3 linked regions of the Homo sapiens genome follow. The protein of the gene in region 2 interacts with the protein of the main gene of each other region in a pairwise test. Each region holds a gene or a part of one and is shown on either strand. Other genes may lie near its edges. The genes, in order: KIF1B, CLIP3 and FMR1.

What was found.
Region 1: the proteins of CLIP3 (region 2) and KIF1B interact in binary tests that used the Homo sapiens proteins (3 or more experiments, as listed by UniProt).
Region 3: the proteins of CLIP3 (region 2) and FMR1 interact in a two-hybrid assay, tested with the Homo sapiens proteins (one large-scale study listed by IntAct).

Annotation. Positions count from the first base shown.
Region 1 is NC_000001.11:10,217,055-10,220,708, reverse strand, and holds part of KIF1B (kinesin-like protein KIF1B), read right to left. Parts: intron 1-3,654. UniProt on the Homo sapiens protein: Has a plus-end-directed microtubule motor activity and functions as a motor for transport of vesicles and organelles along microtubules.
Region 2 is NC_000019.10:36,019,252-36,022,905, reverse strand, and holds part of CLIP3 (CAP-Gly domain-containing linker protein 3), read left to right. Parts: intron 1-3,521; exon of another isoform or gene 3,522-3,599; coding exon 3,600-3,654. UniProt on the Homo sapiens protein: Functions as a cytoplasmic linker protein. Involved in TGN-endosome dynamics. May modulate the cellular compartmentalization of AKT kinase family and promote its cell membrane localization, thereby playing a role in glucose transport in adipocytes.
Region 3 is NC_000023.11:147,946,339-147,949,992, forward strand, and holds part of FMR1 (fragile X messenger ribonucleoprotein 1), read left to right. Parts: intron 1-2,344; coding exon 2,345-2,506; 3' UTR 2,507-3,654.

The sequences.
Region 1 (3,654 bases), on a different chromosome or scaffold from region 2:
CCTGGGCGACATGAGCAAAACTCTGTCTCAAAAAAGAAAAGAAACAAAGAAAAGGGGTCTCACTTTTTCACCGCCCAGGTTGGAGTGAGTGGTGTGATTGAAGCTCATGGCAGCCTCAAAACTCCTTGGCTGTACCTCAGCCTCAGGAGTAGCTGGGTACTATAGGCATGCATCACTGCCCTGTTTATTTTTTATTTTATTTTGTAAAGGTATTTGAAGAACATTTCTTCCTTTTACTTAAAGAAGCTGTTGAAAACATTTAGTACATATCTATCTATCTATCTATCTATCTATCTATCTATCTATCTATCATCTATCTATCTATCTATCTATCTATTGAAACAGGGTCTCACTCTGTTGCCCAGGCTGGAGTACAGTGGAACAATCACAGTTCACTGCAGCCTCAATCTCCCAGGCTCAAGCAATCCTCCTCCCTCAGCCTCTGGAGTTATTGGGACTACAGGCACATGCCACCACACCTACCTAATTTTTTTTTTTTTTTTTGAGACGGAGTTTCGCTTTTGTTGCCCAGGCTGGAGTGCAATGGCTCGCGATCTCGGCTCACCGTAACCTCCACCTCCCGGGTTCAAGTGATTCTCCTACTTCAGCCTCCCGAGTAGCTGGGATTACAGGCATGTGCCACCACACCCAACTAATTTTGTATTTTTAGTAGAGACGGAGTTTCTCCATGTTGGTCAGGCTGGTCTCGAACTCTTGACCTCAGGTGATCCGCCTGCCTCAGCCTCCCAAAGTGCTGGGATTACAAGCATGAACCACCGCGCCCATCCACTAAATTTATCTTTAATAGAGATGAGATCCTGCTTCACTGCCCAGGCTGATACCGAACTATTGGGCGCAAGCAATCCTCTCACCTAGGCCTCCCAAAGTGCTGGGATTACAGGTGTGAGCCACTGTCCCCAGCCCTAGTAAGTCTTTATTTTTTATTTTTTTGAGGTGAGTTTCACTCTTGTTGCCCAGGCTGGAGTGCAATGGCACGATCTCAGCTTACAACAACCTCTGCCTCCTGAGTTCAAGTGATTCTCCTGCCTCAGCCTCCCGAGTAGCTGGGATTACAGGCATGCACCACCACACTCAGCTGATTTTTTTGTATTTTTAGTAGAGATGGGGTTCTCCATGTTGGTCAGGCTAGTCTCAAACTCCCGACCTCAGGTGATCCGCCTGCCTCGGCCTCCCGAAGTGCTGGGATTACAGGCGTGAGCCATAAGGCCTGGCCTATTTTTTACTTTTAAGATGGAGTTTTGCTCTTGTTGCCCAAGCTGGAGTGCAATGGCATGATCTCGGCTCACTGCAACCTCCGCCTCCCAGGTTCAAGTGATTCTCTTGCCTCAGTCTCCCAAGTAGCTGGGATTACAGGCATGCACCACCATGCCCGGCTAAATTTGTATTTTTAGTAGAGATGGGGTTTCTCCATGTTGGTTAGGCTGGTCTCAAACTCCCAACCTCAGTGATGCACCAGCCTCGGCCTCCCAAAGTGCTGGGATTACAGGCATGAGCCACCGCGCCCGGCCGTACGTATCTTTATATCAGGATGTTTATAACAATTTTCTCTTAGAACATCTTTAGAATTTAATACTAGGAAAAAAGGTTTCTCTCGACAAACTATTAGGCTTTCTTTTACCAGAGTGAAAATTGTACAATTTATCTTTCCCTTTTTGCATTAAATTCCATGTTTCCAAATTAAATTACAATAACCACATTAGCCGAGGCAACCTATACATTTAGTTTTTCTTGTTACATAAATTTTTACTTATTTATATTTTAATAGCTTCACTGTATATATTTGTGGTAAGCTGCTCAAATCCTTTCTAGAAGTAGTAACTGGTATAAATTATAAATAAATAAAAACTTCCTGTAATAGCCTATTCTGCTATTTAACACTGTAAATATGTTGTGTAGTCAAAGTTCTAGTTCCTAAAAACAAATAAAACCAAACGACACAGCAAGCTTTTAAAAGTTACATAAAGATCGGCTGGGCATCGTGGCTCACGCGTATAATCCCAACACTTTGGGAGGCCAAGGCGGGTGGATCACTTGAGGTCAGGAGTTCAAGACCAGCCTGGCCAACATGATGAAACGCTGTCTCTACTAAAAATACAAAAATTAGCTGGGTGTGATGGCACATGACTGTAATCCCAGCTACTCGGGAGGCTGAGGCAGGAGAATCACTTGAACCCGGGAGATGAAGGTTGCAGTGAGCCAAGGTCACACCACTGCACTCTAGCCTGGATGACAGAGCGAGACTCTGTCTCAAAAAAAAAAAAAGTTGCACAAAGATTTATGTTGAATGAATTTAATAGCCATGTGAGTAGCCAGAAAAACAGCAGTTTCAGAAGACTGAAACCAGCCCACAAACAGAAGTAGCCAAAAGTTCAAGGAAGAAAAAAACAAAATGAGTAACATACTTAGTACTGCAAAAGTGTGAAGTGTGCCTCCTGGTTTCAGCAATAAAGGCTGGAAACCACAGCAAGGGCAGTATCCATGAAGTGGGGGGCAGGAGGGGACACTGAAGCCAGCCTGTAGTGGGTTGGCACGGAAGTGGGAAATGCCAGTATCCATGACACTGTCAGAGCCTGGCTATGATGAGCAGGAGAGAGCAAATAGGAATGAAGGATTTTATTGGAAGGAACAGAAACGAAGGAGGGATTTTCCTCCCCCCAGCCCTTTATTTGTAATAGGAAAGACTTGCACATTTCTATACTTTATTCAATAGCTATTTACTGGGTGCCTACAATGCAACAGGCAGTTCCTGGGAAAAATAATCCGTGAACAAAAAAGATAAACAAACCTCCTTGTCATGGAGGAATTTACATTCTAGTAGGGAGAGGGAGGACATTAAAATTAATAAATCAGGTATAGAGAATCGAGAATGTAATCAGCATCACGGGGGAGTACAGCAAAGTCAGGGGGTTCAAGATTGTGGTGGTGGGAAGGATTGCTGTGCAGGTGCATAAATGAGGTCAGGGTGGGCCTGCTGATGTGCTGAGATTTAAGCAAAGACTTGAAAGAGGTAAAGGAGTTAGCCAAGCAGATTTCAGGGGAAAAGTATTCCAGGCAGAAGAAAGAGTAAGAGCAGCTGGGTGCGGTGGCTCACGCCTGTAACCTCAGCACTCTGGGAGGCTGAGGCAGGTGGATCACCTGAGGCCAGAAGTTCAAGACCAGCCTGGCCAACATGGTGAAACACCGTCTCTACTAAAAATACAAAATTAGCTGGGCTTGGTGGTGGGTGCCTATAATCCCAGCTGCTCAGGTGGCCGAGGCAGGAGAATTGCTTGAACCCAGGAGATTGTGCCTCTGCACCCCAGCCTGGGAGACACAGCAAGGCTGTCTCAAAAAAAAAAAAAAAAGAAAAAGAAAGAGTAAGAGCAAGTGCCCTATGGTAGGACTATGCCTGGTGTGTTCAAGAACAGTAGAAAAGGCTGGGCACAATGGGTCACGCCCGTAATCCCAACATTTTGGAAGGCAGAGGCGGGCGGATCACCTGAGGTCAGGAGTTTGAGACCAGCCTGGCCAACACGGTGAAACCCCATCTCTACTAAAAATACAAAAATTAGCTGGGCGTGGTGGCACACGTTTGTAATCCCAGCTACTTGGGAGGCTGAGGCAGGAGAATCACTTGAATCCGGGAGGCAGAGG
Region 2 (3,654 bases):
TTATTTGTATTTTTAGTAGAGAGAGGGTGTCACTGTGTTAGCCAGGATGGTCTTGATCTCCTGACCTCGTGATCCGCCCGCCTCAGCCTCCCAAAGTGCTGGGATTACAGGCGTGAGCCACCGCGCCTGGCCTTTTATTTTTATTTTTAGTAGCAACGGGTTTCACCATATTGGCCAGGCTGGTCTCAAACTCCTGCCCTCAAGCGATTCGCCCGCCTTGGCTCCCAAAGTGCTGGGATTACAGGCATAAGCCACTGCGCCCGGCCCCATCCAGAAAGCATTCTGCTGTGCACGATCTAATCATATCCATTGCACAATTCAGAAGGAAGGTTGGGTTGACTCTTCCCATTTTACAAGCCAGACTATAAGAGGCTCCAACAGGTGAAAACCTTTATCTGAAGACACGGAATACTAATCACTGCCCCTTAGAGAAGCAGCATAGCACAGCGTCATGAACTCAGGCTCAGGGACTTGCCCAGGTAAATCTCAGCTTTGCAACTTCCCACCTGTGGACCTGGAGCCAGTGATTCTGCCTCTTTGGGTGTCAATGTCTTCATCCGTAAATGGAGATAATAATAGTAACCACCTTAGGGGGCTGGTTGAGGTTTAAATTAATTAAAATGCGTAAGGCCATTAGAACAGAGTCCAGCGCATACTAAATGCTCTTTGTGTGTGCCAGGCACTGTTCTAGTCCCTCCACCAACACTCTTAAGATCAGCACTAATTGTCGGGGCGCGGTGCCTCACGCCTGTAATCCCAGCACTTTGGGAGGCAGAGGTGGGCGGATCACGAGGTCAGGAGATCGAGACCATCCTGGCTAACCCGGTGAAACCTCGTCTCTACAAAAAAAATACAAAAAATTAGCCAGGCATGGTGGCAGGTGCCTGTAGTCCCAGCTACTCAGGAGGCTGAGGCAGGAGAATGGCATGAACCCAGGAGGCGGAGCTTGCAGTGAGCCAAGATCATGCCACTGCACTCCAGCCTGGGCCAAAGTGTGAGACTCCGTCTCCAAAAAAAAATAAATAAATAAAAATAAAAAAAGATCAGCACTAATTAATTAGCCTATTATATGGACCAGGAACTGAGGCATGGAGAGGTGAATGAGCCTCCCATAATGATAATAACCACACTCACTAAAGTCTCACTGCAGCTAAGCAAGTTTACATGTGTTAAAAATGTTTCCGCCAAATGTGGTGGCTCATGCCTGTAATCCCAGCACTTTGGGAGGCTGAGGCAGAAGGATCGCTTGAGCCCAGGAATTCGAGACCAGCCTGGGCAACATAGTGAGACCTCATCTCTACTAAAAATGAAAAAATTAACCAGGCATGGTGGCACACACCTATAGTCCTAGCTACTTGGGAGGCTGAAGTGAGAGGATCGCTTGAGCCCAGGAGTTCAAGACCAGCCTGGGCAATCAACATGGTGAGACCTCATCTCTACTAATAATGAAAAAATTAATCAGGCATGGTGGCGCACACCTGTAGTCCTAGCTACTTGGGAGGCTGAAGTGAGAGGATCACTTGTGCCCAGGAGTTTGAGGCTGCACTGTGCCAGGGTCGTGCCACTGCACCCCTGGCATGGGCAACAAAGTGAGACCCTGTCTAAAAAAAAAAAAAGTTTCCGCCAGATGATCACTCCATGAGGTGGCTTACTATCTCTATTTTACAGATGAAACTGAGGCTCAATAAGTCCCCTGACCAAAGTTACAGCATGATAATAGCTAACAGGCTGAGCACAGTGGCTTCACACCTGTAATCCCAGCACTTTGGGAGGCCAAGATGGGGAGGATCGCTTGAGGCCAGGAGTTTGAAACTAACCTGGGCAACATAGGGATACTCCATTTCTATTTTTAACAAAAGTTTGTTGTTGTTGTTGTTGTTTTAATTAGCCAGGCTTTGGTGGCGTTCACCTGTAGTCCCAGCTACTCGGGAGACTGAGGAGGGAAGATTGCTTGAACCCAGGAGTTCAAGGTTACACTGAGCTATGATTGCACCACTGCACTCCAGCCTGGGCCACAGAGTGAGACCCTGTCTCTAAAATAGAAAAAAAATTTCAATAACGAATACTTGCTGATCCTTTACTTAATACCAAGCCCTGTTCTGAGGGCTTTAATTTCTCTATAACAGCCCTGTCCAACAGAGCTTTCTGTAATGGTGGAAATATTCTGTCTGTGCTGTCCAGTAAAGTAGCTACAAGCTACATGTGACAATTGAGCACTTGAAATATGGCTAGTGTGACTGGGGAAATGCATTTTTAATTTAGTTTAAATGTATTGATTTGTATTTTTATTTATTTATATTTTTTCTTGAGACAGAGTCTTGCTCTGTTGCTCAGGCTGGAGTGCAGTGGTGCTATCTGGGCTCACTGCAACCCTCCTGGGTTCAAGCAATTCTCCTGCCTCAGCCTCCCGAGTAGCTGGGATTACAGGCGTGCACCATCATGCCTGGTTAATTTTTGTATTTTTAGTAGAGATGGGGGTTTCACCATGTTGGCCAGGCTGGTCTTGAACTCCTGACCTCAGGTGATCCTCCCACCTCGGCCTCCCAGAGTGCTAGGATTATAGGTGTGAGCCACCGCGCCCGGACTAAATTTATTTATTTTTAAATTTAAAAATCATCTGAGTCTTCTTTCTAAGGTATGTATTTATTTATTTTTGAGACAGGGTCTTGCTTGTTGCCCAGGCTGGAGTGCAGTGGCACCATCATAGCTCACTGCACCCTTGAACTCCTGGGCTCAAGCGATCCTCCCACCTCAGCCTCCCAAGTAACTGGGACAACAGGCTTGAGCTACTGCACCTGGTTACCTTTTTTCTTTCTTTTATAGAGAATAGGGTCTTGCTGTCTTTGTTTTTTGGAACAGATTAAGATTAGAGGGTCTCGCCATTTTCACCCAGGCTGGTCTGAAACTCCTGGCCTCAAGTGATCCTCCAGCCTTGGCATCCCAAAGTGTTGGGATTATAGGCATGAGCCACCACACCCGGCCTTAGTTTAAATTTAAATTGTTGGCCAGGCATGGTGGCTCATGCCTGTGATCCCAGCACTTTGGGAGGCCGAGGCGGGTGGATCACCTGAGGTCAGGAATTCGAGACCAGCCTGGCCAACATGGCGAAGCCCCGTCTCTACTAAAAATACAAAAATTAGCCAGGCGTGGTGGCATGCACCTGTAGTCCCAGCTACTTGGGAGGCTGAGATGGGAGAATTGCTTGAACCCAGGAAGTGGAATTTGCAGTGAGCCGAGATCGTGCCACTGCACTCGAGCCTGGCAACAGAGTGAGACGCTGTCTCGAAAAAAAAAAAAATAAATAAAATAAATAAATAAATAAATTTACATTGTCCTATGTGGCTAGTCACTATTCACTATATGAGACAGGGCAACTCTTTAACAATCCTATAAGGTGAGTATAATTTCTGTTCCCATTTCACAGCAAAGGAAGTTGAGGCACACAGAGGTTAAGTCATGTAGCCAGCAAATGGTGATGTGTGACCTGGGGTTTGGGCCCAGGGCGGCCTCATGCAACCCACCTTGCTGCCCGTGTGTGGGCACTCCACGTTGGCCTCCCAGCATTCCTTCCTTAGCCATCGCCTCCCTTCTCTCCCCAGACGGGCACACTGCGGTTCTGTGGGACCACGGAGTTTGCCAGCGGCCAGTGGGTGG
Region 3 (3,654 bases), on a different chromosome or scaffold from region 2:
TGTCTTACAACTAATAATCATGATAGACAGAGCTGATGATATTCAGCTAGTCTCCATGCTTGGTCAGTCATCTGCTTATTTACAGCCAGGACCTAGTCCGAGGATCTCTTCTCAATTGGCTGTCACCAGTGCTAAACCAATTGTTAAATAATTTTAAAATTATCTCCTGAGCACATCCAGGCACCTTTGCTAAGTGCTTTGTGTATGTTTTATCTCATTTAATCTTACAGCAACCCACTGAGGTAGTTTTATTATTCCACTTTATAGGTGAGTGCACTGTAGCTTCAGTCCTTTGCCCACAGTCACATAGCTAGCATATGTCCAAATGATAGTCAAACCTTAGTGTCTGATTCTCTGAATCTATGTTGTCGTCTACTTTTTCTGTAACTTTTAATTATTAAGTAGTTAGGGTTCCTTCCTGACTATGGATTCATTTGGGACCATCACCCAAGATTAGTGAGAGATACTTTTTAAGACAAAGTTTATGATGGAATATTTCTTGGAATTCATAGCAGCTCAAAGTAAGTGTTAACTATTGGTGGGTTCTTAAGGACCAGCATGTCCAAGGGATAGATAGATTGGTAAATTACTGTATGTACCTGTCTTTTACAAAGCTATAAGATATTTAAGTACCCGTTTTGTAATTTTCCACTTAAACTGATATGTTTGATGAACTTGGCAGTCTAACTGCATTGGTTAAAAGGATGCACATTTATATTTCTAAATGAAATGGAATACTGAATTTAAAAGGTGATGTTTTCTCTATTAAGTATGAAAATAGATACAAATCTGGCCAGGCGCGGTGCTCACGCCTGTAGTCCCAGCGCTTTGGGAGGCCAAGGTGGTCAGATCACCTGAGGTCAGGAGTTCGAGACCAGCCTGGCTAACATGGTGAAACCCCATTTCTACTAAAAATACAAAAAATTAGCCAGACGTGTTGGCGGGCACCTGTAATCTCAGCTACTCGGGAGGCTGAGGCAGGAGAATCGCTTGAACCCAGGTGGCAGAGGTTGCAGTGAGCCAAGATCTTGCCATTGCACTCCAGCCTGAGCAACAAGAGCAAAACACCATCTCAAAAAAAAAAAAAAAGGGCCAGGCACGGTGGCGCACGCCTGTAATCCCAGCACTTTGGGAGGCCAAGGCGGGTGGATCACAAGGTCAGGAGATCGAGACCATCCTGGCTAACATGGTGAAACCCCATCTCTACTAAAAATACAAAAAATTAGCCGGGCATGGTGGCGGGCACCTATAGTCCCAGCTACTCAGGAGGCTGAGGCAGGAGGATGGCGTGAACCTGGGAGGCGGAGCTTGCAGTGAGCCAAGATCGCGCCACTGCACTCCAGCCTGGGCGACAGAGCGAGACTGTCTGGGAAAAAAAAAAAAAAAGATACAAATCAAAGTACTGAATCCTTGGTAACGAGACATTTAAAACACATGCACATACCCACTACTTAAACATACTTTGAAATTACAACCATTTGGGGATGTTTTTAGCATTTGTGCTTGAAGTAGATCAATATTTGTAGTTGTTTTAGTTCCATTTGTCACTGTTAACTTTCATTTGTACCTCTGGAATTAGCAGTGCTGTATTCAGCATTGGCACTTAAAATATTTTATAGCTCTTAGAACACTATTTTTTAAATTACATTGATCTTTATACTCTCCTAGGATTCCAGTCCTTCCACAAATTATTATATGCAGTTTTCTTTATACTGTTCCATTCTTCAGACAGAGTTCAGGTTGTAGGATCATCTGAATTTTCTTAGTGAAATACAAGCCAGTAGAAACCAAAGCTCGTGTTTTTCTACTGTATGACTATGGGAGCTCTCAGTATAGAGAAACTTGATCATACCTGTGATAGATATAAAGATGTAAATTAAAGTCTAGTTAGTGAGTTATTTGAGGGTAAAGCCAGAATAGGAAAACATTTTGTTTCTCTTTTCCTGGGCTTCACAATCTTTGGAGAATAACTAATTTTATTTTAACTCTAGTGTTAGAGGCATGTATGTCTTCTGGTAATCAGTAATAGTAATTCATTTTACCTGTTTGTTTCTCACTGTTTTATTCTACTTAGAAGAAGACATGATAGGATTGTGAGTTTTTCTCTAACTTTGGATGCAGTGAGATGACCAGTGTGTTCCAGTTAAAGAAGAAGAGTGTTTTAAAATCATAAACCAAATAAAGAATCCTACCTTACATTAATTTCTTGCACTTCTTCTGTTCTCATCTCCATTTCTCTTTTTAACATGTGGAATTTACACTTCAGGTTTAAATTTCTTGTCAGGCCAATTACAGATTACAGTAGGATATGGTCTGTGTATATAACAACTATAACTTGTTTTAGATCAGAGTTGACTGCAATAATGAAAGGAGTGTCCACACTAAAACATTACAGAATACCTCCAGTGAAGGTAGTCGGCTGCGCACGGGTAAAGATCGTAACCAGAAGAAAGAGAAGCCAGACAGCGTGGATGGTCAGCAACCACTCGTGAATGGAGTACCCTAAACTGCATAATTCTGAAGTTATATTTCCTATACCATTTCCGTAATTCTTATTCCATATTAGAAAACTTTGTTAGGCCAAAGACAAATAGTAGGCAAGATGGCACAGGGCATGAAATGAACACAAATTATGCTAAGAATTTTTTATTTTTTGGTATTGGCCATAAGCAACAATTTTCAGATTTGCACAAAAAGATACCTTAAAATTTGAAACATTGCTTTTAAAACTACTTAGCACTTCAGGGCAGATTTTAGTTTTATTTTCTAAAGTACTGAGCAGTGATATTCTTTGTTAATTTGGACCATTTTCCTGCATTGGGTGATCATTCACCAGTACATTCTCAGTTTTTCTTAATATATAGCATTTATGGTAATCATATTAGACTTCTGTTTTCAATCTCGTATAGAAGTCTTCATGAAATGCTATGTCATTTCATGTCCTGTGTCAGTTTATGTTTTGGTCCACTTTTCCAGTATTTTAGTGGACCCTGAAATGTGTGTGATGTGACATTTGTCATTTTCATTAGCAAAAAAAGTTGTATGATCTGTGCCTTTTTTATATCTTGGCAGGTAGGAATATTATATTTGGATGCAGAGTTCAGGGAAGATAAGTTGGAAACACTAAATGTTAAAGATGTAGCAAACCCTGTCAAACATTAGTACTTTATAGAAGAATGCATGCTTTCCATATTTTTTTCCTTACATAAACATCAGGTTAGGCAGTATAAAGAATAGGACTTGTTTTTGTTTTTGTTTTGTTGCACTGAAGTTTGATAAATAGTGTTATTGAGAGAGATGTGTAATTTTTCTGTATAGACAGGAGAAGAAAGAACTATCTTCATCTGAGAGAGGCTAAAATGTTTTCAGCTAGGAACAAATCTTCCTGGTCGAAAGTTAGTAGGATATGCCTGCTCTTTGGCCTGATGACCAATTTTAACTTAGAGCTTTTTTTTTTTAATTTTGTCTGCCCCAAGTTTTGTGAAATTTTTCATATTTTAATTTCAAGCTTATTTTGGAGAGATAGGAAGGTCATTTCCATGTATGCATAATAATCCTGCAAAGTACAGGTACTTTGTCTAAGAAACATTGGAAGCAGGTTAAATGTTTTGTAAACTTTGAAATATATGGTCTAATGTTTAAGCAGAATTGGAA